Linked DNA regions of Homo sapiens. The protein of the gene in region 5 purifies or fractionates together with the protein of the main gene of each other region. This does not show direct contact. Each region holds a gene or a part of one and is shown on either strand. Other genes may lie near its edges. The genes, in order: SYNGAP1, CHURC1, CLUH, GALT, ARPC3, ARPC4-TTLL3 and LRCH2.

Evidence for each region.
Region 1: the proteins of ARPC3 (region 5) and SYNGAP1 purify together in Homo sapiens (co-immunoprecipitation; one large-scale study listed by IntAct). This does not show direct contact.
Region 2: the proteins of ARPC3 (region 5) and CHURC1 purify together in Homo sapiens (affinity purification with mass spectrometry; 2 studies listed by BioGRID and IntAct, with this or other methods). This does not show direct contact.
Region 3: the proteins of ARPC3 (region 5) and CLUH purify together in Homo sapiens (affinity purification with mass spectrometry; 3 studies listed by BioGRID and IntAct, with this or other methods). This does not show direct contact.
Region 4: the proteins of ARPC3 (region 5) and GALT purify together in Homo sapiens (affinity purification with mass spectrometry; 3 studies listed by BioGRID and IntAct, with this or other methods). This does not show direct contact.
Region 6: the proteins of ARPC3 (region 5) and ARPC4-TTLL3 purify together in Homo sapiens (affinity purification with mass spectrometry; 2 studies listed by BioGRID, with this or other methods). This does not show direct contact.
Region 7: the proteins of ARPC3 (region 5) and LRCH2 purify together in Homo sapiens (affinity purification with mass spectrometry; 3 studies listed by BioGRID and IntAct, with this or other methods). This does not show direct contact.

Annotation. Positions count from the first base shown.
Region 1 is NC_000006.12:33,437,065-33,440,564, forward strand, and holds part of SYNGAP1 (ras/Rap GTPase-activating protein SynGAP), read left to right. Parts: intron 1-298; exon of another isoform or gene 299-417; intron 418-603; coding exon 604-1,227; intron 1,228-1,266; exon of another isoform or gene 1,267-1,354; coding exon 1,355-1,499; intron 1,500-1,710; coding exon 1,711-1,855; intron 1,856-3,500. UniProt on the Homo sapiens protein: Major constituent of the PSD essential for postsynaptic signaling. Inhibitory regulator of the Ras-cAMP pathway.
Region 2 is NC_000014.9:64,920,955-64,924,454, forward strand, and holds part of CHURC1 (protein Churchill), read left to right. Parts: intron 1-3,036; coding exon 3,037-3,172; intron 3,173-3,500. Other genes in the region: CHURC1-FNTB protein, read left to right, coding at 3,037-3,172. UniProt on the Homo sapiens protein: Transcriptional activator that mediates FGF signaling during neural development. Plays a role in the regulation of cell movement.
Region 3 is NC_000017.11:2,698,265-2,701,764, forward strand, and holds part of CLUH (clustered mitochondria protein homolog), read right to left. Parts: intron 3,474-3,500; coding exon 3,349-3,473; intron 3,257-3,348; coding exon 3,102-3,256; intron 3,002-3,101; coding exon 2,876-3,001; intron 2,562-2,875; coding exon 2,414-2,561; intron 2,211-2,413; coding exon 2,118-2,210; intron 327-2,117; coding exon 1-326. UniProt on the Homo sapiens protein: mRNA-binding protein involved in proper cytoplasmic distribution of mitochondria.
Region 4 is NC_000009.12:34,645,206-34,649,474, reverse strand, and holds the start of GALT (galactose-1-phosphate uridylyltransferase), read right to left. Parts: upstream 2,801-4,269; 5' UTR 2,771-2,800; coding exon 2,689-2,770; intron 2,387-2,688; coding exon 2,217-2,386; intron 1,984-2,216; coding exon 1,908-1,983; intron 1,819-1,907; coding exon 1,770-1,818; intron 1,644-1,769; coding exon 1,514-1,643; intron 1,361-1,513; coding exon 1,304-1,360; intron 1,142-1,303; coding exon 1,019-1,141; intron 714-1,018; coding exon 581-713; intron 478-580; coding exon 394-477; intron 66-393; coding exon 1-65. UniProt on the Homo sapiens protein: Plays an important role in galactose metabolism.
Region 5 is NC_000012.12:110,434,323-110,437,330, forward strand, and holds the end of ARPC3 (actin-related protein 2/3 complex subunit 3), read right to left. Parts: intron 2,831-3,008; coding exon 2,762-2,830; intron 2,362-2,761; coding exon 2,235-2,361; intron 1,883-2,234; coding exon 1,788-1,882; intron 896-1,787; coding exon 833-895; 3' UTR 501-832; downstream 1-500. UniProt on the Homo sapiens protein: Component of the Arp2/3 complex, a multiprotein complex that mediates actin polymerization upon stimulation by nucleation-promoting factor (NPF).
Region 6 is NC_000003.12:9,830,548-9,833,701, reverse strand, and holds part of ARPC4-TTLL3 (ARPC4-TTLL3 fusion protein), read right to left. Parts: intron 599-3,154; coding exon of another isoform or gene 166-598; intron 1-165. Other genes in the region: tubulin monoglycylase TTLL3, read right to left, coding at 457-598.
Region 7 is NC_000023.11:115,227,597-115,231,096, reverse strand, and holds part of LRCH2 (leucine-rich repeat and calponin homology domain-containing protein 2), read left to right. Parts: intron 1-3,500. UniProt on the Homo sapiens protein: May play a role in the organization of the cytoskeleton.

The DNA.
Region 1 (3,500 bases), on a different chromosome or scaffold from region 5:
GTATCTCTGTGTCTCCAAATCTCCCTCTCCATATAAAGACACCAGTTTTTATAAGGTGGGTTAAGGGTCCACTCTAATTCAGTATGGCCTCTTTTTTTTGAGATGGAATATCGCTCTTGTTTCCCAGGCTTGGAGTGCAATGGCATGAGCTCAGCTCACTGCAACCTCCGCCTTCCAGGTTCAAGTGATTCTCCTGCCTCAGCCTCCTGAGTAGCTGGGATTACAGGCACGTGCCACTATGCCCAGCTAATTTGTTTTTGTATTTTTATTAGAGACGGGGTTTCACTATGTTGGCCAGGCTGGCTCGAACTCCTGACCTCAGGCAATCCACCCACCTCGGCCTCCCAAAGTGCTGGGATTACAGGAATGAGATACCATGGCTGGCCTCTTCTTAGTTTGATTACATTTGCAGGGATCCTGTTTCCAAATAAGATCACATTCACAGGTTCAGGGTAGACATGAGTTTTGGTGGGATACTATTCAACCCAGTACACCGTCTCACCTTATGATTGCTGTCTGTATCCCACTTTCTTACTGTCTCTCCTCTTTTGGTGTCTCTCTGTCCCTTCCCCCTTTAACATCATGCCCACCCCACCATGCCAGGACAACAGCCGCCGGGTAGACAATGTGCTAAAGCTGTGGATCATAGAGGCCCGGGAGCTGCCCCCCAAGAAGCGGTACTACTGTGAGCTCTGCCTGGATGACATGCTGTATGCACGCACCACCTCCAAGCCCCGCTCTGCCTCTGGGGACACCGTCTTCTGGGGCGAGCACTTCGAGTTTAACAACCTGCCGGCTGTCCGTGCCCTGCGGCTGCATCTGTACCGTGACTCAGACAAAAAGCGCAAGAAGGACAAGGCAGGCTATGTCGGCCTGGTGACTGTGCCAGTGGCCACCCTGGCTGGGCGCCACTTCACAGAGCAGTGGTACCCTGTAACCCTGCCAACAGGCAGTGGGGGATCTGGGGGCATGGGTTCGGGAGGGGGAGGGGGCTCGGGGGGTGGCTCAGGGGGCAAGGGCAAAGGAGGTTGCCCGGCTGTGCGGCTGAAAGCACGTTACCAGACAATGAGCATCTTGCCCATGGAGCTATATAAAGAGTTTGCAGAGTATGTCACCAACCATTATCGGATGCTGTGTGCAGTCTTGGAGCCCGCCCTGAATGTCAAAGGCAAGGAGGAGGTTGCCAGTGCACTAGTTCACATCCTGCAGAGTACAGGCAAGGCCAAGGTGAGTGTTGTGCCCTCAGGGAAAGGTGACTTGGGAATGGGCACTTGCTTGGGGGTTAGTGAGGACAGGGCAAATTCACGAGATTGGGTTGTGCAGAGGCTGACACTTGGATTTTCCTGGGCCTCAGGACTTCCTTTCAGACATGGCCATGTCTGAGGTAGACCGGTTCATGGAACGGGAGCACCTCATATTCCGCGAGAACACGCTTGCCACTAAAGCCATAGAAGAGTATATGAGACTGATTGGTCAGAAATACCTCAAGGATGCCATTGGTATGGCCCACACTCAGGCCCTCTTCTTCCCAAACCTGCCAGATGTCCACCCCAGACCCCAAGTCCACCCTTCCACAGCTTGATACTTCCTAACCCAGAGTCCTAGGACTCCAGCCTCCAACACCTGATTCTGAAATTTCCCCAACCCTGGCCACCCCCTTCCCTGCCCTTGGAAAGTGTGACCACACCCTCTTGTGCCCCCACCCCCCAGGAGAATTCATCCGTGCTCTGTATGAATCTGAGGAAAACTGCGAGGTAGACCCTATCAAGTGCACAGCATCCAGTTTGGCAGAGCACCAGGCCAACCTGCGAATGTGCTGTGAGTTGGCCCTGTGCAAGGTGGTCAACTCCCACTGGTGAGACTGGGAACGCTGGGCTGGGGGGCCAGGGTCGGGGGAATTATGTGTTCATCTGTTCATCTATCTGTCCATCCTCAAAGAGGACTGAGCACCATTTATGGGCAAAGCATTGTTCTAGGCGCTATAGAGCAAACAGGTGAAAGAGGCCTGGTCCCTGCCCTCAGAGGGCCTCCACCAGAATGGGGACAAATTAGAAGAAAAAAAAAAAAAGCCACAGAGCCATAATGGTGTGTAAGTGCTGAGTAAGGGTCCCCCCAACCTCTGTGTGACATAAGGTCAGAGAGAAGGCAGAGCTTTGAGATAAGTGGGGAAGAGGTGCCCCCTTGGGTAGGCTTTGAAGACTGGTTTAGGTTCTGATATATGGACATAGTTGGCAAGAAAGACATTTCAGAAGAAGGCTGTGAGAAAGGCACATGTGTGATGGTGAAAAGGCCCAGGAGTTTTCAGGGGACATTAAAGTAGGTTAGTAGCAATTACATCAGGTTTAGTGGAGCATGTGCCTCATAATGGGGAGTGGCGGGAGAGATGTCTGGGCAGGAAGATTAGCTTTAGAAACTGGAAGGCCTCAAGGAGTCTGAGGTCATTGGTAGGCCTTGGGATGCCATTAAAGGTGTCAGAAATATTGTGATTTAGAAGATTAATCCATAGGCTGGGCACGGTGGCTCACACCTGTAATACCAGCACTTTGGGAGGCTGAGGCGGGCAGACCACCTGAGGTCAGGAGTTTGAGACCAGGCTGACCAACATGGAGAAACCCTGTCTCTACTAAAAATACAAAATTAGCCAGATGTGGTGGCACATGCCTGTAATCCCAGCTATTCGGGAGGCTAAGGCAGGAGAATCACTTGAATCTGGGAGGTGGAGGTTGTAGTGAGCCGAGATCACACGATTGCACTCTAGCCTGGGCAACAAGAGTGAAACTCCATCTCAAAAAAAAAAAATTAATCCATAAGTAGAGTGTATGTAGTAGAGTAGAGGGATGTATGTTGGGGGATGACTGGAATAGAGCCAGCTGGGGGCTCGGAGGCATGAAAGTCAGATCCTGAATCAGAACAGTGACAGAAGTTAGGAAGGAGCTACTGGAAGGACCCTCTCGGGAAAGGATCAGTAGGAATTGTCAGCTTATTGGAAAGGAGGGAGCATGTCTGTGGGGAGTCACGGATGACTCAAGAGGCCATGAGGCTGGTGGTTGGGAGACCGGTGGCCTCATTGACAACCAGGAAAGTCAGGAGGAGGAGCCAGTTGGAGGTGTGGGGGCGATGGTGAGCTCTGCTTTACACCAGCCGAGTTTAAGGTGTCAGTGGGACATTGAAGTGGAACTGGGAGGTGCGGGGAGTGAGCTCTGAGCCATTCCAGGGACTGGGGATCATGCCTGGGGCACCTCCATCCCCATTTCCCTGGAATCCAGAAGAGTTGGGGGGTCCGAGCTCCCTGTACCTCAAGTGACCCTCCATCTCTCTCCCATCTCTGTCTCTCCCTGGTGTCTGTTTTTCTTCTCCTCCTCTCCTTGTCTCTCTCCCACACCCCTCCATCTCTCTCCCACGTGTCTCTCCCCTCACCTTCTCTCCCCCTCCATTTCTCTCTCCCTAATCTGTCTGTTCCCTCTGCCATGGCCCCCTTCTTCAAGCAGCCTCCCATCTTG
Region 2 (3,500 bases), on a different chromosome or scaffold from region 5:
ACTAACTATAAAAACTATAGTAATCAAGAGAGTTTGATATTAGTGGGAAGGTAGATATATGTATCAAGGGAACAGAATAGTCAAAGCAGACCCACATATATATGGTCATTGACTTTTTTCTACAAAAGCACCATTGTAATTCAGTGGGGGGAAAGACAGTTCTTCAACAAATCTTGCCAAAACAACTGGAAATCCATACGCAACTAAATAAACCTTGATCCTTACCTCATATATAAAATTATTTCAAAATGGATTATAAACCTAAATCTACAAACTAAAAGCTATAAAACTTCTAGAAAAAAATGTAAGAAACTTTGTGCAACCCTGGGGTAGGCAGAGATGTCTTAGGAGAAAAAAAGTATAAATTATAAAAGAAAAAATGTTAAATTGGACTTTATGAAAATCAAAACTTGTTTGCTCATTAGAAGAAACCATCAAAAAAGGCAAATCAATGACGGAGAAAATATATTTGGGAAAAAACTTGTATCTAAGATATATAAAGAACTCTTACAACTCAAAATAAACAACCTAACTTTTTGAAAATGGGCAAAAGACTTGAATGGACATTTCATAAAAGAAGATACATGAATAAGCACCATGAAAAGATGCTCAACATCATTAGTCATCAAGGAAACAAAAGTTAAAACTACAATGAGATACCACTTTACGTCACTGAATGGCAAAAATAAAAAGCAGTACCTAGTATTGATGTAGCTATAGAGCAACTGGAACTCACACATTGCTGGCAGGAATGTAAATTGGAAAACCATTTGGCAGTTTCTTGTAAAGTTAAATATACCATATTTTTACCATATTAGCAATTCCACTTCTACATATTTACCCAAGGGAAAGGAAGACATGTATCCATCCAAGACTTGCACATGAATCTCTATAGCTGCTTTATTCATAATAGCCCCAAATGGAAACAACCCAAATATCTACCAACAGCTGAATCCTACAGGGAATACTATTTGGCAATGAAAAGCAACAAACTACCAGTACCTAGAACAACAGTGATGATGAACATAGGCATTATATCGAGCAAGGAAAATTGGATGCGGGAGTATACTGATTCTGTTTATATAAAATTCTAGAACGTGCAAGACTGGAGATGGAAATCAGATCAGTGGGTGTCTGGGGTGGGATGGAGGTTAGAGATAGACTGAAAAGCATGAAGGAACTTTTTGGGGTGGATAGAAATGTTTTATACCTTCACTAGGGTAGTGGTTACATGGGTATATACATTGGTTAAAAGTCATTCACCTATGTATACCCTTACAGTGTGTGAATTTTATTGTATGTAAATTGTACCTCAGTAGATTTTATTAAAAAAAAAATCAAAGGCTGGGCACAGTGGCTCATTCCTGTAATCCCAGCACTTTGGGAGGCCGAGACGGGCAGATCACGAGGTCAGGAGATCGAGACCATCCTGGCTAGCATAGTGAAACCCCATCTCTACTAAAAATACGAAAAATTAGCAGGGCGTGGTGGCGGGCACCTGTAGTCCCAGCTACTTGGGAAGCTGAAGCAGGAGAATGGCATGAACCTGGGAGGTGGAGCTTGCAGTGAGCCGAGAGTGTGCCACTGCACTTCAGCCTGGGTGACAGAGCGAGACTCCGTCTCAAAAAAAAAAAAAAAAAAAAAAAATCAAAGCAAAGCATTTGTTCTTAATAACTGGAAATGTATACTTTAATCCTAAGGCCCTTTTCCCTTTTAGTAGTTAAGGCAGTACACCTATGATTTAATAACTATGTAGTAATGTCTTGATTTCTCCCACTAGAATTAATGTCTTCCTCAATACATAGAAGGGAGAGATTCCTCAATATATAGAAGGGAGAGATTAATTCTCCCACCAGAATTAATCTCTTCCTCAATACATAGAAGGGAGAGATTAATTCTGGTGCTTGGAATCCAGAAAGACTTCCTAGTGGCATTATTTATGGTGGATCTTAATTTCGCTGATGCTTCTTAAAACTCCTTGAAGGTAGCAACATGTTTGGCTCATCTTTGAATCCTCTGTTGTGCTTTGCACAATATCAGACACAGATGCACTGGAGAAACGTTGATTTGAGTGATTTTTAATCACATTATTTAAAAATACTCTTTAAGTGTGTTGCTGAGAAATGGGATTGGACTAGATTATTTATAAAGTGACTTTTAATTATTAATTATTAGCCTTTAGCAAAGACTTCCTTTGGGTCGGGGACGGTGGCTCACAACTGTAATCCCAATACTTGGGAGGCTGAGGTGGGAAGATCATTTGAGCCCAGGAGTTTGAGACCAGCCTGGGCAACATAGCAAGACCCCATCTCAATTACCAAAAAAAAAAAAAAGGCTTCCTTTGAGCCAGGAGCATAAGTTATTTAGAATTTCTTTTTTAAAAACTTTTTTTGAAAATTTGTATAGTTTCTTAGTAAAGATGTAAAACCCATTCTCTCTTAAATGCCATTGTGTCAGTCTTACGAAATGAAGAACTTAAGCTTCTCTGCCTCAATCATGTGTATCCTTAAGGACTGACATCTATAGAGCTGAGAGTTTACTTTTGTTTATTTTGTATTATGATCAAGGATCAAAACTATTTGAACAAACAACTAAACATCTATGTAAGATCATCTTTATCATTGACTCAGTTTCTATTTTGATTGAATTTAATTTTAGTTGGTAAGCCTCGTTTAATATTGTTGGTTATTAAATTTTTCTAATTTTCTATTTTCATATTTTATATTAAGGTTTCCTTAAGTTGTTTCTAAATATCTATTTTCAGTTTATCCTCCCTTTTCAACATAGTGGCAGTCCTTACAGACTTAAGGATCTAACACTGCACTTTAGTTGCTTTTTTTTTTTTTTTTTTTTTAACATGAGTAACACTTCTTTAGGAAAGCTAGTAATTTCAAAAATTATTTGGTATATGACCTAGAAGTAAATGCTGGCCATTTTTTAGTTTTGTTTTGCCTTTAGACATTTTAAGTCTGTTAATCATCTTCACTAAAGATTTTGAAATGTAAAGAAATTAAATTCCTGTTTCTGATATTTTAGGGTAATACCTGCCTGGAGAATGGATCTTTCTTACTGAACTTTACAGGCTGTGCAGTGTGCAGTAAGCGGGATTTTATGCTGATCACAAACAAATCCTTGAAAGAAGAAGATGGAGAAGAAATAGTTACCTATGATCGTAAGTAGACTTTATTTTTTAACCTGAGTGTGTTAGCAGGTGTCAGCTTTTGGAAGTCGATATGTTACACAAAATATTCTGAGGCCTATTTCAATATTGTATTGCGCACATAATTACTAGTTAGGTCTTTAAGAGGAAAATGTCATTAACACCTCATTTATCTGGGATATCAAATAGTCTATGTAAATGACTTTTGCAGATAACTAAAGCTTACGATTCAGGAACTGAATTTTTTTTGTTTATCAAATTATTTTTCACGGACATATTTTTAAAAGCTTTATGCTGCCTTAACAAGATATACTTTTTATTATTGTTATTATTGTGACCT
Region 3 (3,500 bases), on a different chromosome or scaffold from region 5:
TCCAGGATGCCGGGGATGATGGACTGGGCCGTGACCCGGTAGCCGCGGTAATCCACCACCACCGTGCCCAGCGTGTACAGCCCCTCCACGTCCACCGCGTTGTACGTGCGGACGCCATTCAGGTCGTTGGTGGGCGCCACGTAGGCCGCCACGTCCCCCCCGAAGTCCTTGTAGTGGTCTCGGACGTCGAAGCCCAGGCTGAAGAAGATGTTGTTCCAGATGAACATCTGCATCTTGGTCTCCTCGCTGGGGTTGATGGCCATCACGTTGCCGTCAATGACGGCCATGGCGCCCCTGGTGGCTGCCGCGGTGAAGTCGCTGTGCACCTGGCGGGGGTCGAGGAGGGCAGGGTTAGAGGCCGCGCCCACAAGAGCCTGCATCCACCTGGCCAAGCGCACGCACCTAGACCGCGGAGGCAACCGGGCCTGCCTTGGAAACCCAAGGACCCGGAGCCTCAGTTTCCTCATATGTAGAAAAGGGCAAGAAAACCATGTTTTGGCCGGGCGCGGTGGCTCACACCTGTAATCCCAGCACTTTGAGGGGCCGAGGCGGTCAGACCACTTGAGGTCACGAGTTCGAGACCAGCCTGACCAATATGGTGAAACCCCATCTCTAATAAAAATACAAAAAAAATCAGCCAGGCGAGGTGGCGCGCGCCTGTAGTCCCAGCCACCCGACAGGCTGAGGCAGGAGAATTGCTTGAACCCGGGAGGTGGAGGTTACAGTGAGCCGAAATCACACCACTGCACTCCAGCCTGGGGGACAGAGTGAGACTCCATTTCTAAAAAAGCGCAAACAAACCAAAACCCCCATGTTTTGAGAATACACTTGTGCTGAGGGAGACAGCAGGGCTTAGTGATTAACAAGCGTGCGCAGGTTTGGGATCCACCAGTTATGTGCCAGGTGAACTTGAACAGATAAAGGTATTGACCTTTACAAGTTGTCCAATATATTATAGGAAATAGTCTCTATAACGCACTTGGCACCATCTCTGGTGAAGTCGGTACCCGAGAAATGAGTTTTTGTTTCTACAATTATCATCTCTAGGCAGTATAACTATGGGAGGTTGGTTGTTTTCAGACAGGGTATCACGCTGTTGCCAAGGCTGGAATGCAGCGGCACGAGATCCGAGCTCACTGAAGCCTCGACTTCCCCTGGCTCAGGCCATCCTCCCACTCCAGCCTCCCGAGTAGCTGGGACTACAGGCACATGCCACCATGCCTGGCTAATCTTTTGTATTTTTTGCAGAGACGAGGTTTCACCATGTTTCGTAGGCTGGTTTCCAACTCCTGGGCTCAAGTGATCTGCCTGTCTCAGCCTCCCAAAGTGCTAGGATTACAGGCGTGAGCCACTGTGCCTGGCTGAGATTTCTTTTTTTTTTTTTTGAGACGTAGTCTTGTTCTGTCGCCCAGGCTGGAGTGCAGTGATGCAATTTCGGCTCACTGCAACCTCCGCCTATTGGGTTCAAGCAATTCTCCTGTCTCAGACTCCCGAGTAGCTGGGACTACAGGCATGCGCCACCACACCCAGCTAATTTTTGTATTTTTAGTGGAGATGGGGTTTCCCCATATTGGCCAGGCTGGTCTTGAACTCCTGACCTTGTGATCCGCCCGCCTCGGCCTCCCAAAGTGCTGGGATTACAGGCATGAGCTACTGAAGCCGGCCTGAGATTTTTTTTTTCTTAAGCAACTGCTTTTCCTCATTTCTCTTAGTAACCCAGCACTAATAACTTTTAAACCCCAGCAAACTAAAAGTGTTATGCAAATGAGCACCCGCCCTAGAAGGGCCATGGCCGGCCAGTGCTCGCCCAGGCAAAAGCCCCGCAGCAGTCACAGAGGGCGGGAAGCTGCACGGCCCTGGACACTCAGTCCCTATGGGAAGTAGGGCCCGCTCCTTCCAGGGACTCAAAGCCTCAGAGAGGCCAGAGAAAGGTACTGGGATGGTCTGCTGGGAGGCGGAAGGCTAGCAGACCCTGCGGGAGACGCTGACTGGCCTTCGGGGAACCTGACAGGGTTAGGGCTGCCCCTGCCTCCCTTGCTTTCCTCCTCTCCATGAGAAAACCCGTCAGCAGGTGGACAGCGGGCCTCAGACTGCCGGTCAGCAGAGGCTGCAGGCACCTTGAATATGGCCCTTTCTCGGAGCAGCCGCTCAGGCAGGTTCTTGCGAGGCAGCTCCCTCGTCGTCTGCAGCTCCTCATTCCAGTCTCGGGTCTGCAGAGAGATCAGGGAGGGAAAAACGAGCTCAGCCTGTGCCCTGTGACCTGCTCCCGGAAGTCGCTCCTTCTACCTTCCTGAGAAGAGCCCCAGACTCCCAAATGAAGTCAAGCATGGGGCCTCCAGGGAAGTGCACGGAACCAGCCCAGCACCCAGGAGGGCAGGGGTGCCCAGCGAGGGCAGGGCCAGGTTGCAGGCACCTGTCCAGGAATGTGCTCCTCATAGCCCAGCCTCGAGGTGTAGGCGTCCTCTGCACGCACGCAATCCATGGCATGCTCCGCCTGGGGGGCTGTCCAGCTGTACACCTGGAATGGGGTGGCGATCCTCTCGAACGGGTGGCGCTGGACCCTGTGGCAGGCAGGGGAGGGGGAGATGGGGCAGCCCACCAAGCTCAGAGCCCTTCCACGGGCCCCTTTTCTGAGGCCCCCGCCTGCTCCGGCATCTCCCACCCTGAGACACTGCCCTGGAGCCAGATGGAAGTGCACGGGCGCCTCTCCTGCGGCTGCTGTCTCGGCACTGGCCGACAGCTCCCTAGAGCGGGGACTCCAACACTGGGGGCCCAGGGCGGTTTCTTCAGACAGAAGCACTGGAGTGCAGGTGGGCCGGCTCACCCCATGCCCCCGTGTGCCATGAGACAAGGCGGGAGGGGACAAAGGCACTACCTTTTCTTCTGCAGCACAGCGAAGTTCTTCTTGAAGGTCGGGCTGATCTGGTTGAGCAGCTCCACTAGGGAATGGCTTAGGAAGCGGGGGCTGGCGGGCTTGGGGTTGAAGTGATAAGCTGTGGACCTGCAGGGAGAGGGCGGGCACTGAGCGGGGGCCCAGGTGTCTGCCCAGACCCAGGACGGCTGGCACGGCAGGGGGGTGTGGTGGGCTGGCAGGGACTCACTGATTCAGGTAAAAGCCCCGTGTGGACGCGGTGATGCTGACTTGCCGGTCCTCGGCTGTGATCACAAACAGGTACATGAGGTCCCCGTGCATCTTCCGGTTCCCCGGGGGCGGGTTCCATCCGCTCATGGTGAGTACTTTCAGGCACTGCAAGGGCTTCGGGAGCGGCCGAGTCTGAGGGGCCAGGCCTCTGGTGTGGGGCCTCCACCCCGCCAGGGACCCTCTTCCTCCCTCCCCCAGGATCCTACCTTCCAGTCACGGTTTTGGGGCTGCAGGGGACACAGTGGCCGCTCCCGGCTCCCTGGCAGGATGTACTCGGGTGGTGTGCAGTCGATGGGGTCCATCTCCAAGCCCTTCTTCCGCTTCCCGCTGTCTGAGGGACCCGAGGCTGGTGGTCAGC
Region 4 (4,269 bases), on a different chromosome or scaffold from region 5:
GTAGTAATGAGCGTGCAGCTGCCAATGGTTCCAGTTGGCCCCAGCCTCTGATCCTGTGGGAGCCCCTGACAGAAAGAAGAGAGACAGTGGGGAGAGAGAGCCCTTTTACAGTTATCCAGGTTAGCACCTACTCCCAAACCCAACCAGGTATCTGAAAACTACATCTCCCAGGATCCCCTGCTTGAGAAGAGCTGGCAGGAGATTAGAAAGCACATTGGAGATGTAGTTTCACCAAGTTTGCTGCTCCACCCTCAGTCCCAGCATCTCTACTCTGGCCACTTCCCCCAGCAACTGTTTCAAGGCTTGCTCCTTTGAGGTTGCAGTTCACTAGGCTGAGCCCCAGGAGCCCAGAAATGGTGTTGGGGCTAAATATAGGTACTTGAAAAGCCTCACCATGCCAGCCCATGGAGTAGGGAAAGGACGTCTCAAAGAGGTTGTCATACTTGGTCAAGAGCTTCTTCATGATGGAGGCTAGATCTGGAATCAGAGCCTGACTCTCAGCCTGGGGTCCAGATGCTGACCCTACTGGGAGCAACCTCCATCCAGTGCCTAGCCCCAGGATCCTACTTGGGAGACTGACCATCACGCTCAGCAGGGGTCAGCTCAGGTAGCCGCCGCACATGCCGACGGGGCAGCAGCAGTGTCTGGTAGGGCCATGTTGCCCAGAAGGGGACCAGTACTAACCAGTGCTCACTGGTTAGGACCAGACGTTCCTAGGAAGACAGAATGGATAGGAAGTCATCAAGGTGACATAGGAGCCGGAGTGTGGTCAGCAAATAGGCAAGGGAAGCAGAAGAAAAGAATGTGCCCAGGATCTGATGTCTTCTCACCACCTCTACCACTAACCACCCGAGTCTAAGTCACCATCATCTTTCCTTTAGATTACTGGATTATTGCTAAGGCCTCCTAGCAAGTCTCTCTCTACTAGTTCACCTCTAGCTTTCTCCTTTACACACCTCTCTCATGGGATAAGAAAGTTAGGGACTCCTTGGGGACACAGGGCTTGGCTCTCTCCCACCTTCCTGAGTAGCTCCTGGCGGCTGTACTCCATTAGCAGGGGCTCTCCATGCTGACTCTTATAGGCCTGCTGAGATCGCTCCTCACGCTGGGCAATATCTGGCAGGAAACTGCTGGCCCATACCTGTCAAGGGGCAAAAGCAGAGAAGAACAGGCAGGTCCTTTACCTCCAAGCCTCCACATCATTGGCATATTTCCTCTGTCCCATCCATTAATCCTGTTCCCATGTCCACAGTGCTGGCTCAGACTCAGCCAAGAAACCCACTGGAGCCCCTGACACCCTTACCTGGCAGTGGGGGTGGGGGTTAGAACAGCCCATCATGGCACCTTTGTTTTCAAAGATCTATCAGATAGGGATACGGAGCTCTGTTAGCCAAAAGACACCAAGTCAACTCCCTCCTGACCACACCCTGTGGAAACAGAAATGTTACTCCCCAGAACCAAAGCTTCATCACCCCCTCCCTGCCCATCCAGGGGAAGGGGCGACCTCACAAACCTGCACCCAAGGGTACTGGGCACCCAGCTCCTCTGTGACTGAGGCCCATGCATCAACAACAGCCCGGATCTCAGGGACCGACATGAGTGGCAGCGTTACATCCGACCAGGGGTGGAAGCACATGACCTTACTGGGTGGTGACGGGAGAAAAGATAACCGAGAGGTAGGGCTTGGCTGTGCTACGGGCAGGGCCGAACCCCAATGCTGAGTCTCCAACTCTGGTTTGAAAGTTGTAAGAGGGGAAATCCATAGTTACCAGACTCCTCGAGCAGACTTTGCTTGGAAAAGGGGATGATCACTGGGTCCTGAGGTAAAGGAGTATCACTCTCTGCAGCAGAAGTCCCTCAAGAGGTCTAGCCACCCTCCTCCCCAGCAGCAGTTGGAGCCAGGTTACCTGGACTGGGGGCATCAGGCTGCAGAGCTGGGAAGTCGTTGTCAAACAGGAAGGTGCTATCGTACTGGGGATTCACCTACCGACAAGGATAGGCTAGAAGCACTCACTGCCCCATACCACCAGTTACCTGGTGGGCTTCAAAGACTGGACAGGCTACAAGGGAGTAGGGAAGGCCCACCCTAGGGGACCAAAAAGCTTGGTGGGATATGACCCAGAAGGAGGTTCACTATCCCTGTGGGTGGAGGACAGTTCTAAGAGGGAACTACTCCCCGTGGCCCAGCCTGCAGATGCAGGGCTCTACAGGCTTACCTCTCCGTTGGCTCGGATGGCCCCAGGACACAGAGGGTTGAGAGGGTCATGGCGGGGCACTGTCTTCAGAAGCTGGGGCTCCACTTGACCCTGCCAGGGCCGCTTCATGCGGTGAGCTGACACCAGCACCCACTCATCCTGCAGCGGGTTGTAGCGGATATGCTGATGGTCTGGGGGCAGACAGTCAAGATCAGTCCTCAGAGCTCTCTAGCTCCCTCTCTCCTGGGTCTCACCCACCAGCAGGCCCAAGCTCGGGAGCGCCCTCTCGGCCCTGTCCCGCTCAGGAGCTAGAGGCCCAGGATTGGACTTTCCCAGCGCCAATTGGCCTGCTGCTCGTACAGGCCTGCAGACTGTACGCCTTGTCGGTCTGGCTCGGGATGAGCGTTCCAACCTTCGGAGGGGACGAAAGCTTCCTAAGGAAGGGGAGGGCTCGGCTCCGCGCCCCAGCGAGTCCCTGCCGCGGTGCAGTTACCGTTTGCCCGGAAGGTTGCTGCTGCGGCGTCCGCCTCTGACGCCTGCTGGCGTTGCTGAGGATCGGTTCCACTGCGCGACATGAGGCCACCGGGGGATCCGCTGGAAAATCTGCAGGGCCGTGCCTCACCTTTCACTTTCTCCGTCCACACCACCCCTCCCCGCGCCGCCCCCGATGATTGGCCAGCCGCCAGCACGTGACTGACTGACTGGGCTGCCCTGCCACCTGGGGGCGGGGCTCAGAACAGCTGTGAACCCTGGGGGCCGACATTGATGATCCTACTTCACCCAGAGCTAGAGCCACTACACTGGAAGAACCTCTGTGAAAGCTGCCTACTGCAGAATCCTTGGGCTCCAGGATGCCTACAGGACTTGCTTGCTGCAATCATTCATTTGATCTTTCATTCAGCAAATATTTACCAAGCATCTAGCATGTGCTAGGCACCTAGGCTGTGTAAAGCATTGGGATGCACATGTCAGGCATGGCCTCTGCCCTGCCTGAGCTTACATTCTAGGGCGAGTAAGGATATGACCCTGGATCAACAGCGCCTCAGTCACCTGCTCAGTGGCTGTAGCGCAGGAGAGGCAAACTTGGTGGGGTCTGTGTGGAGTACTTCACCATAACCATATCCTATCCCCAAAAGCAAAAACAGATTTGGGAAAAAGGGCTAAGTAACCATATTCTCTTTTTCTCTCACTCTTGCTCTCCTTCCTCTCTCTCTCTCTCTCTTTTTCATACACACACCAAGACAGCACAAGAAGTGGGAGGGGTAAAAGGGCTATAAAAAAAAATCTAAAAATGGCCGGGCTCGGTGGCTCACGCCTGTAATCCCAACACTTTGGGAGACCAAGGCAGGCGGATCACAAGGTCAAGAAATTGAGACCATCCTGGCCAACATGGTGAAACCCCGTCTCTAGTAAAAAAAAAAAAAAAAAAAATTAGCTGGTCTTGGTGGCGTGCACCTGTAGTCCCACCTACTCGGGAGGCTGAGGCAGGAGAATCACTTGAACCCAGGAGGCAGAGGTTGCAGTGAGCCGAGATTGTGCCCATGCACTCTAGCCTGGCGACAGAGCAGACTCCGTCACAAAAAAAAAAAAAAAAGTACAAGAAAGTCTAAAAATGTGGAGAGTACAGGACTATCAGAAGCTCCAGCCACCATCTAGGTGGGGCCTAGTGTTTCCTTTACACATCCCCTTCCCTTTTCTAAATTTTCCTTGGATGGGACCAATTGGCTAACACTAGGATAAAATTCAAATTAATTCCTCCCCTGGTACTTTTGTTTGTTTGTTTGTTTGAGAGAGAGTCTCACTCTGCCACCCAGGCTGGAGTGCAGTGGCGTGATCTTGGCTCACTGCAACCTCCACCTCCCAGGTTCAAGCGATTCTCCTGCCTCAGCCTCCAAGTAGCTGGAATTAGAGCTGTGTGCCACCACACTGGGCTAATTTATGTATTTTTAGTAGAGACGGGGTTTCACATGTTGGCCAGGCTGGTCTTGAACTCCTGACTTCAAGTGATCCTCCTGCCTCAGCCTCCCAAACAGCTGGCCCCCAGTACTTTTAAAGAGCCATCTAAATATTGTCT
Region 5 (3,008 bases):
AGTAGAGACCAGGTTTCTCCGTGTTAGTCAGGCTAGTCTCAAACTCCCGACCTCAGGTGATCTGCCCGCCTGGGCCTCCCAAAGTGCTGGGATTACAGGCGTGATCCACTGCGCCTGGCCATATTAGTATATTTTATTTCATACATATACACAGAGAGAAAAAAAAGAAAAAGAGAAAAGAAAGCACTGATATATGCTCTAACATGGATGAATTAGAAAACATTAAGTCAAAGAAGCTAGACATAAAAGGCCACATGTTGTATAAAAAATTCAATTTACATGAATTATCCAGAATAAGCAAATCCATAGAGACAGAAAGTAGATTAATACTGGGAGGAGGGGTGGGAGGGACAGGGGGCTTGGGGAGGAATGTGGGGTGGGGTGGCTGCTAAAGAGTGCAGGTTCACTACACCGGGGTGATGAAAATGCTCTGGATTTACTGGGGATGGTTGTAAAACTTCATGTATATACTAAAAAAAGTGAATTGTACACTTTAAAAGGGCATTATGGAATGTGAATTTTATCTCAAAACAAATTGTAAGTGAATGTCAAAGACTGGCAATAAAGTTTTTCTGACATGGAATGTTAGAAATTTCTTTATTATTACTTATTCTTATTAAGCGCCAGCTTTAATGCTGCAGAAAATTTCAAATCACCCTTGATAACCCACTTTCTTTTCTCCCACCCAAATTCTTGATCAAGAGTTTTTCAAGTAAAGACATGCTCTTCTCTCTTCTGTATAAAACTTTACGAAATAAAGGCAAAAGATTGTGTACATCTTGCTGGAAAATGCTGCCCAGGGCTCTGGAGACGGTGGCTGCCCGGGCTCCCTTCACTGTCCAGGTCCTGAAAGACTCTTGTTCATGAACTGTCTCTTCACAAAGCAAGTCCACCACTAACAAGAGAGAACAACACAGAATGAACAGCGGGGTCAAATTACAATAGAATTTGCATTTATTTAATAATAAAATTTCACATTAGTCTGGAATCTCTTATAAACTTTTTTTTTTTTTTTTTGAGACGGAGTCTCGCTCTGTCGCCCAGGCTGGAGTGCTGGAGTGCAGTGGTGTGATCTTGGCTCACTGCAAGCTCCGCCTCCTGGGTTCATGCCATTCTCCTGCCTTAGCCTCCCCAGTAGCTGGGACTACAGGCGCCTGCCACCACGCCTGGCTAATTTTTTGTATTTTTTAGTAGAGACGGGGTTTCACCATGTTAGCCAGGATGGTCTCAATCTCCTGACCTCATGATCCGCCTGCTTTGGCCTCCCAAAGTGCTGGGATTAGAGGCGTGAGCCACCGCGCCTGGCCATAAACCCTTTTTAGACAAAGTCTCACTCTGTCATTCAGGCTGGAGTGTAATGGCATGATCTTGGCTCACTGCAACCTCCACTTCCTGGGTTCAAGCGACTCTCTTGTCTCAGCCTCCTGAGTAGCTGAGATGACAGGTGCACACCATCATGCCTGGCTAATTTTTTGTATTTTCAGTAGAGATGGGGGTTTCACCATGTTGGCCAGGCTGGTCTCGAACTCCTGACCGCAAGTGATCCACTCGCCTCGGCCTCCCAAAGTGGTGGGATTACAGGCGTGAGCCACTGCGCCCGGCCTGCAATTCATTATTTAGTGTGATTCAGTGAACTCATATTACATACTAGACATATACTGGAAGTTAAGCAACATTGCAATGCAGAAATTAAAAATATTCTTGCAATGGAAGACCTTAGTGTGTTCAATGGTGGCTATGGGATAAAAGGTGATTTACCAATTAAGCAGGCAAGAAGAGGGTCTTACCTTGCTGGGTTTATCATTCTGAGGGTCGAAAACTTTCTCACAAAGTCTCAGTCCAGTCTCTTGCCTTAGCTGTTGTAAATAGGCTCTCATCACTTCTAAAACAGAACAATTTAAAAAAAACTGTATTTGCAAATACATCCCAAATGTACTGGTTGCAGCTCTGGATGCTCACTGTGGTAATACATTTTTATACATTTGAACAGGATACAAAATAGAAATGACAGTCCAGATAGTTTTATAACTATATTTGTTTTTGTTCAAAAGATTTTCTGCATGTCATCCTTGTTGCCAAGAATCGTTTGTGAGAGTGACTAATAAGATAATGTACTTCCTATGATTTCACTCTCAATCTGTACATGAATCAAGGCAAGAAAAAGAGGGGTGGTAGGAAGTCAAATGGAGAAAATCTTCTTGTGTCACAGAGTGAGGATAGAGACCTGTTCTTACCATCTTCCTGTTTGTTTGCAGGTTTGGCATAAATTGCGTTAAGTGGAAAACCAGGCTCTCCAGGAATGGGAAAATTAGTGATTCCCAGCGTATACATTTCTTTCTCACCTTGGCTTTTGGAATTGCACTGGAAAAAAAAATATATATATATATATACACACACACACACACACACACACACACACACACACACACACATATTTTACAGGGAAAAGAAGAATTCTATCCTTGGACCCCAGGTTAAGAACCCTTGAGTCAAGGGCTTAAAAGGAATTCCTCTGTCAAGATTTCTGTCTTGAGAAAATATATTCAAAGCCTTAAAACACCACTACTTTTATCTTTGTGTCAGTCAATTATACTACAAGTTCAGGTAACTAAATTCAAATTTTTCTCTTAAGTCCATGCTGTAAGTCAGAGGAAATATTTTCTACTTGTCTTTAAAGTCTCAACAAATCCCAGATGACTGGGAGGGTAAATGCCTCTCAGCAATTTGTTTTCCTGATATACAATCATCCAAGTTTAATTACCTTTTGCAGTTTCTTCAGACATTCAGAAATGTAGAGAGTTATATATATCAAGGTCCTATCAGCTTCATTCTACAGGGAGAAAAAGAAGACTTAAAAACAGTTATCAAAACATAACAATGATGTGCAATGTATGCATTCCATCTTTGTCTTCTGATTATCTGCTGAATGCAGTGGTAGGACAGCCACTATCACATCAAAACTCCCATTCTCCAAATGCACAGTCTCCTCAGTCTCCTTTTCCGTCTGC
Region 6 (3,154 bases), on a different chromosome or scaffold from region 5:
AGCTAATTTGGCTGTGTATTTTTAAACAATACTTTGTGAGTAGTGGCTTTTACTTGCTACTGGTGGCTCTTTGGTGGGGTGGCTGATCCAGGTGGTTGGGAGGGGCCTGGAGAGCAGGAATAAATCGCCTTGGAACACTCGGGTGTTTTGGGGGAATGGTCTTACCCAGGGCCCGGGGGTTCTTCGGACTCAGTGGCAATCTGTTCAAGTGGTGGGGTTGCCTGTCCCCACTAGAAAAGGTCATGGTGAAAATGCAGCCCATCCTGGTGCTGGGGGCATCCCACTCCCAGAGATTGGGGCAGACCAGGGCTGTGGCCCTTTTCGCCTTGCCTTTCTTCCCCTTTCCGGGGGCTGAAGTGGTGGCAGTGGAGACTGGCTTCTCACTGTGCCCCAGGCTCCTGGCCCCAGTGCCTTTCCTAGAAGCTGACCTGTGGGTAGGGGTCCCCGAGTCCTTGCCTTCCCCAGAGCCTCGCTGGGTCAGCAGAGGGACTGCTGGGCGGACCCCCATCCGCCGATGACACATCGCCATGGGCTTCTTGATGGTGAAGCCCTCTACCAGGAGCCGGATGCCCACATATTGAGGCACCTCCACAGCAGGCTGTGGGCAAGAAGAGGAGACAAGGCCCACTCAGTCAGTGGTACTGGAATCCTTGGCCCAGCGGGACCCAGAGTAGAGATGGGTGGAATTACTTTCTGAGGCACCTGGTCAAAGAGGCGTTTCTGAGCTGAGAAATGGAAAGCCCACCTCTGAGTCAGTACCTAGAGTCACAGAGCTCCAGGAATTGCTAGCCCAGAGGAAGGGGGAATCCTAGCCATGTCCCACCAGCACCCCTCAGCCACATTTCCCTCCTAAGCTGCCCCCAGCCCCTGCTGGAATGCGTGTGGCTCCACTGCACAGGCCACTGCTGGTGGACAGCTTCCTGAGCTGAGCCAATCAGATTCTCTGCACAGAGAATTTGAGTTACGCCACCCAGACAAGTAAGAGGTTTGGAGCCTGCCTAGAGCCTCGTGTGAATCCAGGTTATGGGGTAGCAGAAACTAAGAACCTTAAAGAAGACAGTCTGTGGAGAGAATGAAGTAACGAATATGCAGAGGAAGGCAGAGAGAAGGGTCCAGGAGAGGGACTCCCTTACAACTCTCAGTTCCTATCAGGCCAAGCTGTATGTCCTGCCCTCAGCTGGGCTCCAGGAGAGCTCCCTGTGCCTTGCTAGCAACCTGGAGCCAGTTGGAGGTATCTTCTGTGCCACTGAAGGATCCTGATCAGAATCTATCTAAACATCAGAATTACTTGGAGCTTGTTAAAAATACAGCTATTGGCCGGGCATGGTGGTCACACCTGTAATCCCAGAGCTTTGGGAGGCTAAGGTTGGCAGATCACTTGAGGTCAAGAGTTCGAGATCAGCCTGGCCAACATAACCAAACCCTGTCTCTACTAAAAATACAAAAAAATTAGCAGGTCATGGTGGCAGGCACCTGTAATCCCAGCTACTCGGGAGGTCGAGGCAGGAGAATTGCTTGAACCCAGGAGACAGAAGTTGCAGTGAGCCGAGATCGCACCATTGTACTCCAGCCTGGGTGAAAAGAGCGAAACTCCGTCTCAAAAAAAAAAAAAAAAAAAAAATGCAGCTATTGCCGGGCGCGGTGGCTCTCTGGGAGGCCAAGACAGGCGGATCAGCTGAGGTCAGGAATTGGAGACCAGCCTGGCCAACATGGCGAAACCCCATCTCTACTAAAAACACAAAAATTAGCCGGCCATGGTGGGCGCCTGTAATCCCAGCTACTCGGGATCTGAGGAGAATCACTTGAATCCGGGAGGCGGAGGTTGCAGTGAGCCGAGCTAGCACCACTGCACTCCAGCCTGGGTGGCAGAGTGAGACTCTGTCTAAAAAAAAAAAAAAAAAAAAATCAAATAAAAATGTAGCTATCAGCACTCCCAAGTAGCCCCAGATGATGAGGGAAAGTTCATCTTTACAGAAGAATCTCAGCTAATAAATGCAGAAGGAACAACAGAATTAGACATTTGCCATTTTGCAACTCTAATAAAATAGGCAATAATCAAAACTGGTATCAAAACAATTAGATGAAAGGATGACAGGAAAATGTGTAATCTGGACAGAGCCAACACAGCACCTTACAGAAAAATTAATTGCAAAGGGGAGATGTAGCTTATAATGGAGAGAATCTGGTAGCCACCACTGTAACCCACAGTCAAACTCAGCAGCACTAACTGTGAGACACTCTCACAGGATGTGCCTTGTGATGCCACATGAGGTACGCGGCATCACCTCTGAAGTGCTCTTGGGAAAAATGTTTAACCTCATCAAACTATTTGACCTAACTTCTAGTTCCTGAGACAATCAGCTAACAGAAGACCAAGGTAAATCACACCATAAGGAAACAATCAGATAAATCCAGAATGTGGGACAGTTCTACAAAACAACCCGCCTGGCCCCTCAAAAGATCAAAACTATGGGGTCAAAAGGCACTGGGGCTGGCCTAGATGAAAAGAGACAAAAAAAAACAGTGCAAGGTATAAGCCTTTACTATGTGCTGGCCTAAAAACAAAAACAAGAACAAATCAGCAATAAAAGACATTTAGAGGGCTTGGCGCGGTGGCTCATGCCAGTAATCCTAGCATTTTGGGAGGCCGAGGCGGGCAAATCACGAGGTCAGGAGATCGAGACCATCCTGGCTAACATGGTGAAACCCCATCTCTACTAAAATACAAAAAATTAGCCGGGCATGGTGGCAGGCACCTGTAGTCCCAGCTACTCAGGGGGCGGAGGCAGGAAAAGCGCTTGAACCCGGGAGGCGCAGCTTGCAGTGAGCCGAGATGGTGCCACTGCACTCCAGCCTAGGCAACAGAGCAAGACCCCGTCTCAAAAAAAAAAGATATTTGGGGGGCATTTGAAAAATGCAGATATACATAGTCTCCTCCCCAAGCTAGACATTTTGGGTCAATCTCTGGGGGTGGAGCCTCCTCACATCCATACCTTTAGAAGCTTTCAGATGCTTCTGGCCTGGGCACTGGCATTGGGAGCACTGCACTACAATGGCACCTTTTCCCTCAGCTTGCTCATATTTTCCTGCCCATGTATTTCCCCGTTTACATTTTTTGAAACCAAAACGCCAATATATTAATTTAAGAAATGAT
Region 7 (3,500 bases), on a different chromosome or scaffold from region 5:
GTGAAACAATATTGAATAAGGAGAAATTAATACATTTCAAAATAAATGGGGGAAGGTTTTTTTACATTAAGATGAAATAGACCCCTGGTTCTCCACCCTGGCTGCACATTACAATTGCAAGGGAGATTTTTTGTTTGTTTTTTCAACCCTGCCTGGATCCCACCCTAGACCAATTAAATCAGAATCTCAGGGGCCAAGGAACTTAAGGAAAAAAAATCTTCCCAGGTAATTCTAATATGCACTCAGGGCTGAGAAACCCTAAAATTGTTTATTTTTTAAGCACTCAAGAAATATTTGTTCTTTGAGTGAATAAGAACATTGATAAAAGTTTAGTTATTAACCTTAAAGCCACTTGTCAAGAAAGTCAAAACCAAAACTAGGAACTAAATACTCAAAAATTGTTTCAAATTGTTTGATAAATTTACGTGAAGAAAATGATGCCCCCTAAACATGTAGCAGCAAAATCTTTTCTCTGCTAACAGGCTTCCTATGAGGGAAAATGTATTTTAGGCAGCTGTTTGCAGAGTTTATCTTTGGTGTCTTTTTACCTCTCTCTGCATTTCTAGTGTCTGTTCTTCACTTGCCTCCTCCCTTTGTCCCCATCACACTTTTCTCCTTTCTCTTTCTCTCTTCAACCTCACTCCTCTTACTTTATTGGGATAGAGCTCAGGTAAATGATTATGGCAGCCTCTCTAGGAGATTAACATTTAAAAGGGGGAGTTTGCTAATTTACTTGAATCTCCAATTGGTGATTGGAGATTCATGACCTTTTTGAGTAGATCTCCCTTCCAGATACTCCTTGATTAAAATTTTCACCCACATAAGGACATAAAACAGTGATCAGAAAGTTGGTAACCCATTTCAGTAAAGTAGCTGACTCTTGCTGTAATGTCTTCTCCGAGATGGTCTGTAGATAGATTTGACAAGATGAAGGGAAATTGCATAGAACTTTTTGGTCCATCTGGATACTATGATAATTTGTTGACTTGAAAGTGAATTTAATTGTTACCCAAACAAATCCTGAAACCTTGCATAGTTGACTCTGTCACCAGTGCTACAAATAAGTGGATATGTTTCAGCGTACTTGCTGCTGCTCCCTCTGCTTCTTTATACCTGTTTATGTACATGAGCAGTAGGTCTGTGAAACAGATTTAGGAATTCTTACATCAGATTCTGCCGTGTCCTGGATAATCACGTGTTTTCCTGTAAACCAGGAGTCAACTCTAGTATTTCCTACATGTGCTGGTTCACCTTTTCAACTGTAGGGCATGGTGCATTGTATCAGGTTGTAAAATGGAGCCAGATAAACACAGCATTTGATTTTGTGAGGTGAAGGTCCTCTCAGTGCATTTAGTGGAATGAGCTCATGATTGTGATTTTGTGGCCTTATTCAAATATCTGCCTTGCTTCATTTAATAAATGTCTTCCTGAAAAATCGAATGTGAAGCACATTTTTGACAGTTGACTCATATTTTAATTGCTATAGATTGAATCTGAATTACTGAACCTTGTACTGATTTATTCAGTGATAAGTTCTACAGCATACTTATCCCTTAATTTCTTTCATTTAAAATAAAATGTTATCTTTAATTGAAGGGTACATTCATCATTAAGATAATACCATTTATACAGCTCTTTATACATTTTTAAGTACTTTCATATATATTATCCTATTGTATCCTAATAATAACCCTGTGAGCTTGGCAGAGTACATAGTAATTGCTCGTTGTGGTTGAGAGACAGGTTAAGTGATTTGTCCAAAGTTAAATGGTGAGTCTGGCAGAGTGTGTGGGTCAGAGCCTAGGTTTTTCAACTCCAGTGCTATCCTAATGTTATTTCCAGTGTAACACATTCTCTCTTTATAAAAAAGCAGTTATTAAACACCATGCCAATAAATAGGTTATTTATTCTGAAAATTCAATGCTTATTTAACTTCGTAGGTTATATACTTTTTGTTTGTGGTATGGTGTGTTTTGTTTTGTGTGTATTTGCATAGCTATCATGCCTCTCTTATGGTTTTAGAATAGATTCATTAAGCAAGCATTTATTGAACTCCTACTTTGGAAACATGATTATGGCTAATAAAAAGAGACATGGTTTTTGTACTTAAAGGATTTATACAATAGTCAAATGTATACAGTAATATAACCATTAGAAAAGAATTTCACTATAATATATAATAGTATTCAAAATAATATATTTTAATATACTGTACACATAAGAGATCTGGAACTGTGGCATAAGGCTTAATTTTAGAGGGGATTAATTTAGTTTGAGAAAGCTTCCTGAAAAGTTAGGTTAGGTATTTGTTGCATGACAGGTATAAGAACAGAAGTGGTTGATTGGGATGTTTTAAAATTGGGGTTAGTGGAATACTTTTGCTTAAGGTTTAAATTTAATATTTCAATTTAGATTATTTGTGATATAAATTCTGAAGCATTTATTTGGCATGAAGGTAGACAAGATCCAGAACCTCACTGAGAACATAAGAAGTAATGCTAGGGACACTTACTACAAATAAAGATAATTGAAGACTTACAAAATTGATTTGCTGGGAGGTGCCATTTGTTTAAGTTCCTAGGCACACAGTGAAACTTTGCAAAAGAGGCATCTTGTTCTCCCAGCCCAGCCTAGCAGCCCACTCTGTGAGATGCCTTAACTGCATGATACACACCTCCCCATTCTGCAGAGGCTAGTGATCATCATGACCTAGAAAGGGAAATATTTTAGTTTTCTTTTTTTCTCTACACTTTGAGTGTATTTGGGTGCTTCTTAAAACATTGTAATACTCTTATAATCAGTTATCTGGAAAGTTTCAGAAAGGGTTGTCTGCTTCTCATTTACAGAAAAAAAAATACCTTACACGCCAGGGAACCATTTAATGTAATTAAAGAAAACTGTATAAGCCAATTTAATAACAATGTAAGTTTATGTTTACTCTCACTTTCAGCTAGTGCACTCAATCTGCTAAAGGTCAAACTGTAATGTTTAATCTTTACATTTCTCTTGTTTCATGTAAATAGATAGCATTCCATTAACAGAATACCTGTCAATGGACTGTAATGGATAATTCAACAGTAGATATTTTCTAATGTATTTTTTATATCAAATTCTTTGAGGAAAAGTTTTTTCCAAATAGGAAAGTAAGTTCTTTCCTTTTCAGGAACACTTGATTCTGTGTAGTCTTTTCTAATTTGTGACAGAGAATGTTGTCACTTTATTTTTAGATTAATTACTTGTCTCAGTAGAATATTAGAGATTCAAGGTGACAAGAGACAGGTATAAGATAACTGTGACATAAACTTTTCTTTGAACCATATGGAGATGAACTGATTCTAGAACATTTGTGAATTTGGATTTCACTCAGAAATGGCTTTTTGTTAATGATTATGTTCCTAAGAGAATCTAGTATGTATAGTCTAGAGTTTTTCACTTCTTAAAAAAATAATTGCAATACGTAAATCCTTAGTATTTTGAGCTACTTGGTTGGGGATGTCTAT